Linked DNA regions of Homo sapiens. The protein of the gene in region 1 interacts with the protein of each later gene in a pairwise test. Each region holds a gene or a part of one and is shown on either strand. Other genes may lie near its edges.

Region 1 (7,290 bases):
AGTGATATGTACTTGTCTTTCATAATAAGTAAAGGTCTACAATCAATATGGTTTTCAAAAGCCTGTTTTCCTTTGTAAATTTCCTGAAAATAGTATGTTTCAATATTTAAAGACCATTGTAACTACCGGTTGGTTCACAATTATAACTAAAATAAGATTTACTCAGTTGTTTTCTTTTTATTAGTATTTGTTGAATATTTGAAATTGAATTTCTCATTTCCAAAATAAAACGTCTCACATATATGTATGTACTCACAATTAACACTTCTTTTAAGTAGTAGGCTTAAGTTTTAAAATTTTTAAAATCTTAAGATTTGTATAAAAAGGAGTGATTGTATAAAAAGGAATAATAATTATTAATTGTTAAGAAAAATAGATGCTGAATTTCAGAGGGTTTCTAGAAGCTGGAGAAAAAAATTGCATAGAAGTTTCTTTTTTGACGGGTGACTGGCAGATGAGTTACTTGTCATTTTGCTATAATTTATTTTTTTCTTTTAATAAGGCTCTTTGGGTTAAAAAAAAAAAAGGAAAAACAAGTACTCCATTTCTAAGAGTTTCCTTTTTATTTATGTTGTACTTTGGGGTGTAAATAAATTTTACATAGCCACGGGAAATAGAGTATCCAATTTCATGTTTTCAGTCTCTGTTGCAAGCTCTAAATGACTGATGTCGTGTCTAAAAATATATTTATATGGCTTGATATTTCATTTTAACATTTTATGCACTGGAATTAGATTTTTTAGGATTTTTAGAAAGATAGAATGACAGAAAGACGATGACTATTGTTATAAAAAGTTAGAATGTTAGGAAGTTCACATTCTAACTTTCAAATAATCAAACTTATTTTGCCCCACAAAAACTCACAGTTTTTATACAGATTTCAAGAAGAGGGGTGATAATCTTTTTCACTACTTAGTTAAGTGTTAAGTAATTTAAGAATGCAAGTATGTATTATGCTTTCTCATTATCATTTTTTTCTGTTAGGTAAATGCAAGAACACTGGACATTCTGTAAAAACAGGCCCCTCTTTATAAGGAGTTTATTCACCATAGTTCTGTATTGCAGCTGCTGATCATATTTCATGGAGCTGTTAAAGCACTTAAAACCTAAAATTAGGTACTGTCTGGTTGTAAATATTTCAGATCACTTATTTAAGAAATAAATAGAAAAGTGTGCTATCAAAAGTAGGAGACGTTTTGAATCCTCTCATTGAAGAGCTGAACAAACCTCTATCAAAACACCTTCTTCTTTTTTCAGTGAGAATATAATCTTGACAGTTTCTTTTTCTAAATGGATATTATTCTTACATGTACTAAATGCTAAACTCTTATAACGTGCCTCCCTGTAGAGTATCTTAAACTAATTATATTCAGAAATACAGTTGGGGGATTTTATTACAATGGTTACTAGGTGAAGGAAATCAACACCAGGGGAATGGGGTGGCATTGCAGTGTACCTGCTTCTCTCATGAATTTTTCCTGCTAAACTAAGAAATGACATGCTGTTTCAGGCATTTGCCCTGGAGATGGGTGAGATGCAATATGTGTAATGCTGCATCTTATAGTTAGATGTGTTTTAATGAAGGGGACACTGCATAGTCATTAAATCATTTTTGGAGCCAAACTTGGCGTCATTTAGCTTGAACTTAAGTGGAAGAAAATGAACAAGAGTTACACATTCAAAAGAAGTACAAGCAACTTTGATTGCTTTTAAGAGGTTTGAAGACTTTGTAAACATTACTGTCACTCAATATTGCTTGTGGAGCTGTACATTAATATATGCTTTGGTGATATGTCATTTTACGCTTGAAATTTGTCATTCTTAGTGTTTCTCCATCCATCTTTTTATTAGTAAAGAGATACTGAAAATGAACACTACTATTCTTACTCCCCTAACCCCTTTCACACCTCCAGAAAAAGAGATGAAACTGATTAATTTAAAATAGAAACCATTTTGTGTTATCAAAACCACATTTATATAGTGATTTGAGACAGTTTCAGAGAGTGCACCTCTGAGTCTCACTGTAACCTTTTTTGTCATTGAAAGGTGCTAATTGATCTTAGGGTACTGACACAATAGTATAGTTTGATATTTGAAACCTTTCAGAGTTGGTCTGGCCCTTTTCTTACCCTGAGATTTCAGTGCATGGATGATGAAGAAAGACACCATTCTAAAATACCAGAAATTCTCATTTTTTTCCAATATGAAATGTTTTAATACAGTATGTTCATATTTTTAAAGCTTTTATTTACATACAGTAAGTAAATTTATTTTAACGTACTTTTGGACAGTAGGAGAAAGACCTATATGTTCTATCGTGTTAGAATTTTTTAGTTTTTTTTTTTCTGCACAGGTAGTTTATTTAGGTTATAATTTTTAGGCAAAGTCTGATTCCTATTATCACATGAATATTTTCAAAGTGAAATTGCGTTAAACCAATGTGGAATAGCTTTTGTATCACCAAGGCATATATTAATGTAGATGTCAAATATGAGAGCATATTTTCTTGAGTATATTTATATCCTAAAGTGTATTTTTAAATAAAAGTGGTCACTGTAGTCTTTAGATAATTACAATTTGGCTGTCATTATTACTATAATATTAATCACTATCACCATCATAACATCATAGCTAGCATTTACTCAGGAATTTCGTGCAAAACACTGTTTTAAGCATTTATATGGATTAGCTAATTTTAATCTTCTTAACTATGCCGTAAATTAGGTACTTTTGTTATTCCTATTTTACAGATAAGGAAGCTGAGACCCAGTCATGCAGCACAGTGGAGCCAGGATCCTAACTCCCCAGTATGAGGCCAGCACCCTTATCCTTAAGCGTGTGCTGGGCTCTTGCTTCCATCAGTCATATACCACCATTTTTAGGTGGTACCTGAACATTTTGTTTTAATAATACTTATATTTTATGTAAGGATAACTAGATATTAGAAAAATTTGTTAAATTTTGTATTAAACCTGTAACTTCATGGGCAATATTGTTTGAGACAAGACCAAACAAAGTATTGAAGTCAAAGAAAAAAAATTAAGTATCTGAAGAAACGTATTAAGTAACAGTGAACAAGAATATGGCCTAAATAACCACAGTCATGAAGGCTGGACAGCAAATGACTGAATTTGGAGAAATGCTGTATTTTGTAATGTTTCCCAATTATCAAGAACTTATGACCAGATCTTTTAAATATTTAACTAACATGTGGAATCTTCCTTTGCTCTTCAAGCCTTATCCAAATTGGTTAAATGTTATCAACTTTGTATTTTCTTTGTTTTTGTTTTTTGTTGTTTTAATGCTGGTTTTGAATCTCAAATCTGCACATTTATGTTGAACCAACTAATAAGGCTTGAAGAGTTAAAGAGTGCATGATGGACTTCTGGAGGCAGGTTTAAATTATAATGGAGCTGCCCATATTTTGGAAATACATTCAATTTATCTGGTTATCGCATGTGTAAGGTTTTCTGTAGGTAAATACTTTTGCTGTTAATAACCTGTTTTACAATTTTATAGTATTTTTCCACTGAAGCAGTGGTTTTCATTTTTTTATTTACTTATATACTCAGCCACGGATCCTTTCATTTAAATGGAAACTGATGATATGCCCAGTAGAGAAATGTGCCACTGCTCTAGGTGAAGCAGGATGTAGGTAGCCTGAGAATGACTCACCAACAGTACCCTCTCACGGTGGCCGCCGCCTCTGGAGTTCTCTCTAAGTGTCTTCAATGTATGGAAACTGCTGCAAAAAAATTCAAGTCTTCTGACAAAAGGGGTTAATTCAGAGTACCTGCCCTAACATGTTCATGTGGCATCACTAAAAAACAGACTGTCAGATACGGTAAAATATCTCCCAGTGTGACATATCAGCAGAAAGGTGTGTCTACTCTCCCTTCTATAACTTGAGTATCCGTATTAACCAGTCTTCAAATTCGATTTAGCACTGAGAAAATTAAAACTGATCAAAATGTTCCCTGTGTGTAGTTACAGGTCTGAATGAGGCACAAAGGACTTGTACCTGCAAAGGTTGACTTTATTAATTAGAACATCTTTCCTCCTTTAAAGACTGTAAGAAGAAACACCAGCAGTGGCCTAACTTGACATGACTTTAGATTTTCACGTAAATTATTGCTACTATTTCTGTTATCCTTTCCCCCTTTCTTTTTAAAATGAAAGGGACATTTCTTGTGAAAGACTACAATTAAATCATAAAAATTTACATTCATGTGCCATTAAGTTTAATTCTACTCACAAAAGCAACAGTACAGAGTTTGAAATTCTATCCCTAATCAAGTAGGTGTACCACATACCGGGAGGGCTCATTATGCACAAGGTCATATATACAATTCACAGACCTCTGCATATACCCAACGGAGTGATCTATTCATTACATTTCACCTCTGACTTTGAACTCCCTAATGTTAAAAGATTTGAAAAGAACCGAATGTTCTGATTAAGAGATTGAATATTTCTAACTTAATGTTTTCAGTATGTTGAAAGTGATGATGACTTGGGGGAATCAGCAGATCTCTACATTACCTAATTCTTTTCTCTTACATTTGAATGCAAATGTATATTCATGTGCGGTTATGACTCAAGTCATTCTTGCTAAATTTAATGACGTTGTAGGTGAATCACATTCAGATTTCCTTTTGCAGGTTTTCCAGTAATCTAAAACAATGCTTCTAGTAGGTAACTTAAGCATGCAAACCTCAATAAACCTGTCAAGAACGGCAATTCTACTGTTTTATTTTGTTTTTTTTTTTGTTTGTTTGTTTTTGCATTAACTTTAGTTGATAAGATGATGGTACTGTTATTTTTCTTAGTTGACTCATGAAGAATTTTAATTTAGGTCTAGTTTTTTCCCTTAATTGTTGACTTTAGTTTTTAAAGGTTTCGTTCATGAAAATGGTTAGCAAAGTTGTGGGTACTTGGTAAATGCTTGTTAAATGCTTTTTCCTTATCAGTGTTGCTGAAGACTTGCAAAATTAGAGTGGGATGGATAGATTTCTTTTCTACTCTGCATGGCTTTGAAGACTTTGGAGCTTTTATTGTATTCTTATATTTTTACATACCATTCCCAGGAATATTTAGAGAGAGAATCATTGTAACCAAGGTCACAGGTCTAATCCTCAGGTATTCAAATTAGCTTTAGGTGGACAATTGTCCTATACACACTTGTTCGTATTAATGTTGTCATAACAAATATAGTTATAATATCTTGATGCCTCTCCTGGGGGCCCATTCTGGACTGTGTTGAAGCTGTCTCTAACACTCTCTCACGTCCCTAAGATATTCAACCACATTTGTTCATGATTTTTATGAGGTCCCTCCTGGACTTAAAATTCCTTAAAAAATTTGCCTGCTGCCTATAGGGCAAATTCCAAAATTCTCTGCAGGGAAGATAACCCTTCATACTGAGAACCTTGCTCAGGTTGCTCTTCTCATCTCTCACTCCCCACTCACAACAACTCTCTTTTCCAGCTGTATGGAAAACTGCAGTTCTCAAATACACCTTGGACATTTCCACTTCATTTCTTTGTGCGTGGAATGCTTTTTCTCTGGAAAACATCGCCCCTCTCCCCCTGCAAATATCTTTTCTACTGCTTTTTCAATACTTAAGGTGCAAAATGTTAGCTCCTCTGATAAGTTCCTCTGACCTCCAGAGTCTGAGTTGAACGTTTCTTTCTTGTTACTCCCAAAGCATCCAGCTTCTACATTTAACATAGCCCTTGCCACATTGAAATGTAATAGATTACATTAGTCTAAATCCTGCTTTAAGCTGAGAATTTACTGGAAGGATTAGCTGTATTTGTCATTTCTGTATCGCTAATGCACAGTGCACTGCTGGACATATAGTCAGTAGGTAGTTGTTATATTCCCATTGAATGAATGAGTAGAGGTACTGGGAATGAGAGCAGAGATTGTGACACTGAACATCCCCTCCTTGAGACTGGGAACAGTGAGAAGGGCAGTGACTATTACAAGGTGGGACTACCTCAATAACAACCTCAGGGAGTTTTGGTATAAACCCAGTAGAATTGCAGCTGTGAATCCAGGCTTAGGTTATATGTATGTATACGTGAATGTAGAAATGTGTTTATTTCTTACCACTGGGAAGTCAGTGATCTGGTGGATAAGCCAAGGATCCTGAAAATCTCTGGAGATACGGTAATTTCATAGTACTTGAAATCTGAGAGACTCAGTTCTTATAGCACAGTGAGTAAGTAGAAAGAATATGGGGGCTGGGCGCGGTGGCTCACACTTGTAATCCCAGCACTTTGGGAGGCCGAGGCGGATGGATCACCTGAAGTCAGGAGTTCGAGACCAGCCTGACCAAAATGGCAAAACCCCGTCTCTACTAAAAATACAAAAATTAGCTGGGCGTGGTGGTGGGCGCCTGTAATCCCAGCTACTCGGGAGGCTGAGGCAGGAGAATCACTTGAACCCAGAAGGCAGAGGTTGCAGTGAGCTGAGATTGCACCATTGCACTCCAGCCTGGACAACAGAGTGAGACTCCATCTCAAAAATAAATAAATAAATAAAAAGGAAGAAGAATATGGAGCCAGGCACTTGGGTTCAGACCTCAGCTCTAACATTGATGAGTTTGTAACATCAAACACATTACTGAAACAGATTTTGCTTCAGTTTCTCATGTGTAACAGAACATGCCTCATGGGGTTCTGATGAGAATTCAATGAGTAAATATATGTAAATATATTTAGAGTAGTGCTTGATATGAGTATCAGTTGTTATTACTATGATTGGGTATCTTTCATTAGATTACCCCCAAATGTTCCAGAGATATTTAGAGCTGAAGGTCTTTTTTGGGGGGCTATGGATTGGTGACCATAAATGGAGTGTCCAGTAGTCCAAGTATAAATTAGATACTGTGGGTCATCTTGGCAAATCTGAGGTTGTATTTGGAGCCTTAAGAGAAGACACTATAGGTGCTCAACAGTTGGCATTGGCCATTTACGTTGTGCAGTAATATTTCTTTTAGTAAATATTTCCGCATACAGTAATCTAGATTGTTTTAGAGCTTTAATCTGTGTGGTTCCTTAACTACTTTAAGCAATTATAAGCACGTTGTATAATGGTAGTACTTTATAGCCAATATTTAAGTTTCCTCAGTTGCTTTTTTTTCAGCCGTAAGGTACCAATTATGAGAATTTGTATAATTTTCAATAGTCAGTGGGCCTGATGAACTCAATGTAAACTTTTTAAAAGGTAGCTTTACATATTGCTATGATTCTTACCTTTAGAGAGACAGTAGGAGGTAATTAG
Region 2 (4,717 bases), on another chromosome or scaffold:
CTTCCCTCGGAGGAGGCCAGTGCCCCCGACGCCCCTGATGCCCTGCCTGACTCTCCCACGCCTGCTACTGGTGGCGAGGTGTCTGCCATCAAGCTGGCTTCTGCCCTGAATGGCAGCAGCAGCTCTCCCGAGGTGGAGGCACCCAGCAGTGAGGATGAGGACACGGCCGAGGCCACCTCAGGCATCTTCACCGACACGTCCAGCGACGGCCTGCAGGCCAGGAGGCCGGATGTGGTGCCAGCCTTCCGCTCTCTGCAGAAGCAGGTGGGGACCCCCGACTCCCTGGACTCCCTGGACATCCCGTCCTCAGCCAGTGATGGTGGCTATGAGGTCTTCAGCCCGTCGGCCACTGGCCCCTCTGGAGGGCAGCCGCGAGCGCTGGACAGTGGCTATGACACCGAGAACTATGAGTCCCCTGAGTTTGTGCTCAAGGAGGCGCAGGAAGGGTGTGAGCCCCAGGCCTTTGCGGAGCTGGCCTCAGAGGGTGAGGGCCCCGGGCCCGAGACACGGCTCTCCACCTCCCTCAGTGGCCTCAACGAGAAGAATCCCTACCGAGACTCTGCCTACTTCTCAGACCTCGAGGCTGAGGCCGAGGCCACCTCAGGCCCAGAGAAGAAGTGCGGCGGGGACCGAGCCCCCGGGCCAGAGCTGGGCCTGCCGAGCACTGGGCAGCCGTCTGAGCAGGTCTGTCTCAGGCCTGGGGTTTCCGGGGAGGCACAAGGCTCTGGCCCCGGGGAGGTGCTGCCCCCACTGCTGCAGCTTGAAGGGTCCTCCCCAGAGCCCAGCACCTGCCCCTCGGGCCTGGTCCCAGAGCCTCCGGAGCCCCAAGGCCCAGCCAAGGTGCGGCCTGGGCCCAGCCCCAGCTGCTCCCAGTTTTTCCTGCTGACCCCGGTTCCGCTGAGATCAGAAGGCAACAGCTCTGAGTTCCAGGGGCCCCCAGGACTGTTGTCAGGGCCGGCCCCACAAAAGCGGATGGGGGGCCCAGGCACCCCCAGAGCCCCACTCCGCCTGGCTCTGCCCGGCCTCCCTGCGGCCTTGGAGGGCCGGCCGGAGGAGGAGGAGGAGGACAGTGAGGACAGCGACGAGTCTGACGAGGAGCTCCGCTGCTACAGCGTCCAGGAGCCTAGCGAGGACAGCGAAGAGGAGGCGCCGGCGGTGCCCGTGGTGGTGGCTGAGAGCCAGAGCGCGCGCAACCTGCGCAGCCTGCTCAAGATGCCCAGCCTGCTGTCCGAGACCTTCTGCGAGGACCTGGAACGCAAGAAGAAGGCCGTGTCCTTCTTCGACGACGTCACCGTCTACCTCTTTGACCAGGTGGGCCGCCGCCACCCGGGGTCTGCCCGGGGCTGGGGGTCGCGCTCCCGCAGGAAGGGGTGGGAGCGGCCGCGGCTCCTGGCGGCCGAGCTACCTGGTGCTCTCTGATTCCTCCAGGAAAGCCCCACCCGGGAGCTCGGGGAGCCCTTCCCGGGCGCCAAGGAATCGCCCCCTACGTTCCTTAGGGGGAGCCCCGGCTCTCCCAGCGCCCCCAACCGGCCGCAGCAGGCTGATGGCTCCCCAAATGGCTCCACAGCGGAAGAGGGTGAGCAGGGGCGGGGCTGGGCCCGTGACGTCACGGGAGGCAGGGCCTGGTCCGTGCTGTGTGGGAGGCGGGGCCTAATGTGTGACATCATGGGAGGAGCACCTGGTCCTTGACGCGTGGGAGGCGGGCTTTGGCCCGTGTCGTCATGGGAGGCGGGTCTGGTACGTGACGTCACGGAAGGCGGGGCCTTGTCCGTGCTGCATGGGAGGCGGGGCCTGGGCCCGTGACATCATGGGAGGCGGGGCCTGGGCCCGTGACATGATGGGAGGCGGGGCCTGGGCCCGTGACTGTGGGAGCGGGGCCGGGCCGGGGTCCCAGGCTGTGAGCGCGAGTGACGCCGCGACCTGGGCTGCAGGTGGTGGGTTCGCGTGGGACGACGACTTCCCGCTGATGACGGCCAAGGCAGCCTTCGCCATGGCCCTAGACCCGGCCGCACCCGCCCCGGCTGCGCCCACGCCCACGCCCGCTCCCTTCTCGCGCTTCACGGTGTCGCCCGCGCCCACGTCCCGCTTCTCCATCACGCACGTGTCTGACTCGGACGCCGAGTCCAAGAGAGGTGAGGCCTGGGCGGGGCTGTGGCAGAAGGGCACGCGGGAGGCAGGGCACGGAGCTCCGAGGGTGGGGCCCCTCCGTCTAGGTCCTGGGCCGGGCCAGCCCCGGCTCCGCTCCGCTCCGCTCCTTCCCGGCCCCGCTCCTTCCCGGCCCCAGACCTAGCCTGGACCCCGCCTGGCCCTCGCCTGGCCCTCACCTGACCCTCACCTGACCCTCACCTGACCCTCACCTGACCCTCACCTGGCCCTCACCTGGCCCCTGCACTCGGCTCTCCTCTGCCTGACCCTACCCCGCAGACCTGCGGCAGGCCCTCTCACCGGAACCTTCCCAGCCAGAAGTCCCTGCAGACCCAGGTCCCACGGTGCCCCGGCCCCACGGTGCCCAGGTGGAGCCCTGCTGGGGGCCTGAGCCACCGCTCCCGGCCATGGCCCTCCACTATCCGCCCCACCCCAGGCTGGGCTCATCTCTGCCAGGTGTCCCTACCCCTACAGCCTCTGCCCACGTGCCTGACAAGTGCCCACCTCCTCGGAGAAGGCCCCCTGCCAGCTTCCTCTTCCCTAGCTGTCCTGGCCTGTGGCTGCAGCCCTGGGGGAAGGGCCTGTCAGCCTCACCCCTGGTGCAGGGTGCCCCCTGTGTGGCTGAACAAGCAGGCAGGTCACCAGGAGGCCACTGCATGACCTTGGCCATCCCCTTCCTGTTCAGGCCTCAGTTTCCTTATGCGTAAAACAGGACTCGGAGGCATTTGCTGAGAGTTGTTGGCCTGAGTCCAGTGACAGGAGTGGGGGAAATGGGTCCATCTCTCACCTAGACACAGCCAGATCTGCTGCAGGGAAGGGGCCCGGCCTGTATGTGGGCCAGGGATGGAGGCCAGGTGGGAGTTGCGGGGGAGGCAGCCCTGGTGTCTCAGAACCCTGTGTTCACTTTGTTGTCCTGCTTGCCAGGACCTGAAGCTGGTGCCGGGGGTGAGAGTAAAGAGGCTTGAGACCTGGGCAGCTCCTGCCCCTCAAGGCTGGCGTCACCGGAGCCCCTGCCAGGCAGCAGCGAGGATGGTGACCGAGAAGGTGGGGACCACGTCCTGGTGGCTGTTGGCAGCAGATTCAGGTGCCTCTGCCCCACGCGGTGTCCTGGAGAAGCCCGTGGGATGAGAGGCCCTGGATGGTAGATCGGCCATGCTCCGCCCCAGAGGCAGAATTCGTCTGGGCTTTTAGGCTTGCTGCTAGCCCCTGGGGGCGCCTGGAGCCACAGTGGGTGTCTGTACACACATACACACTCAAAAGGGGCCAGTGCCCCTGGGCACGGCGGCCCCCACCCTCTGCCCTGCCTGCCTGGCCTCGGAGGACCCGCATGCCCCATCCGGCAGCTCCTCCGGTGTGCTCACAGGACACTTAAACCAGGACGAGGCATGGCCCCGAGACACTGGCAGGTTTGTGAGCCTCTTCCCACCCCCTGTGCCCCCACCCTTGCCTGGTTCCTGGTGGCTCAGGGCAAGGAGTGGCCCTGGGCGCCCGTGTCGGTCCTGTTTCCGCTGCCCTTATCTCAAAGTCCGTGGCTGTTTCCCCTTCACTGACTCAGCTAGACCCGTAAGCCCACCCTTCCCACAGGGAACAGGCTGCTCCCACCTGGGTCCCGCTGTGGCCACGGTGGGCAGCCCAAAAGATCAGGGGTGGAGGGGCTTCCAGGCTGTACTCCTGCCCCGTGGGCCCCGTTCTAGAGGTGCCCTTGGCAGGACCGTGCAGGCAGCTCCCCTCTGTGGGGCAGTATCTGGTCCTGTGCCCCAGCTGCCAAAGGAGAGTGGGGGCCATGCCCCGCAGTCAGTGTTGGGGGGCTCCTACCTACAGGGAGAGGGATGGTGGGGAAGGGGTGGAGCTGGGGGCAGGGCAGCACAGGGAATATTTTTGTAACTAACTAACTGCTGTGGTTGGAGCGAATGGAAGTTGGGTGATTTTAAGTTATTGTTGCCAAAGAGATGTAAAGTTTATTGTTGCTTCGCAGGGGGATTTGTTTTGTGTTTTGTTTGAGGCTTAGAACGCTGGTGCAATGTTTTCTTGTTCCTTGTTTTTTAAGAGAAATGAAGCTAAGACAAAAGAAACCTTTGTGTGTTGTCTTCTGAGGTCTGCCGATGATAAAGTCCTGGACAGGAGGGGCTGTGCCAGGAACCCGATGCCAGCCCTTCCTGGGGCCAGGAGGAAGCTGCCCCTCTCCTCTCCTCCCCACTGTCCTCGGCACACCCCGGTGGAGGGGATGGTGTTCTGGCCCTACTGTGTGTGGGGGCGCAGGGGTAGCGCCCTGCAGGTCTCCCTTCCTGCAGGCCGAGTTGGCCTGGTAGGGACGGGTGAAGAATGGACCTACAGGCCTCTCCAGGACAGCCTCCTCCCTGCCCTTCTGAGGGCAATGTCTGTCTGTCCCTGGGCCCAGGGTGGAAGGCGGAGGCAGGAGAGTTGAGCACAGCTGGGCTTCCCTGCACCCTCCGCTGGCCAGCTCTCAACTGCCCTCCTGGCCCGCCAACTCTACAGCTTCCTGTCCCCGGGGTGTGAGTGGCTGTAGGCGGGAGTGAGCTCTGCTGGAGACACCTCCCCAGCCAGGTAAGGG

What was found.
Region 2: the proteins of EYA4 (region 1) and AATK interact in a two-hybrid assay, tested with the Homo sapiens proteins (one study listed by BioGRID and IntAct).

What each region holds. Positions count from the first base shown.
Region 1 is NC_000006.12:133,244,114-133,251,403, forward strand, and holds part of EYA4 (protein phosphatase EYA4), read left to right. Parts: intron 1-7,290. UniProt on the Homo sapiens protein: Tyrosine phosphatase that specifically dephosphorylates 'Tyr-142' of histone H2AX (H2AXY142ph). 'Tyr-142' phosphorylation of histone H2AX plays a central role in DNA repair and acts as a mark that distinguishes between apoptotic and repair responses to genotoxic stress.
Region 2 is NC_000017.11:81,116,795-81,121,511, reverse strand, and holds the end of AATK (serine/threonine-protein kinase LMTK1), read left to right. Parts: coding exon 1-1,311; intron 1,312-1,428; coding exon 1,429-1,576; intron 1,577-1,931; coding exon 1,932-2,132; intron 2,133-3,069; coding exon 3,070-3,110; 3' UTR 3,111-4,217; downstream 4,218-4,717. UniProt on the Homo sapiens protein: May be involved in neuronal differentiation.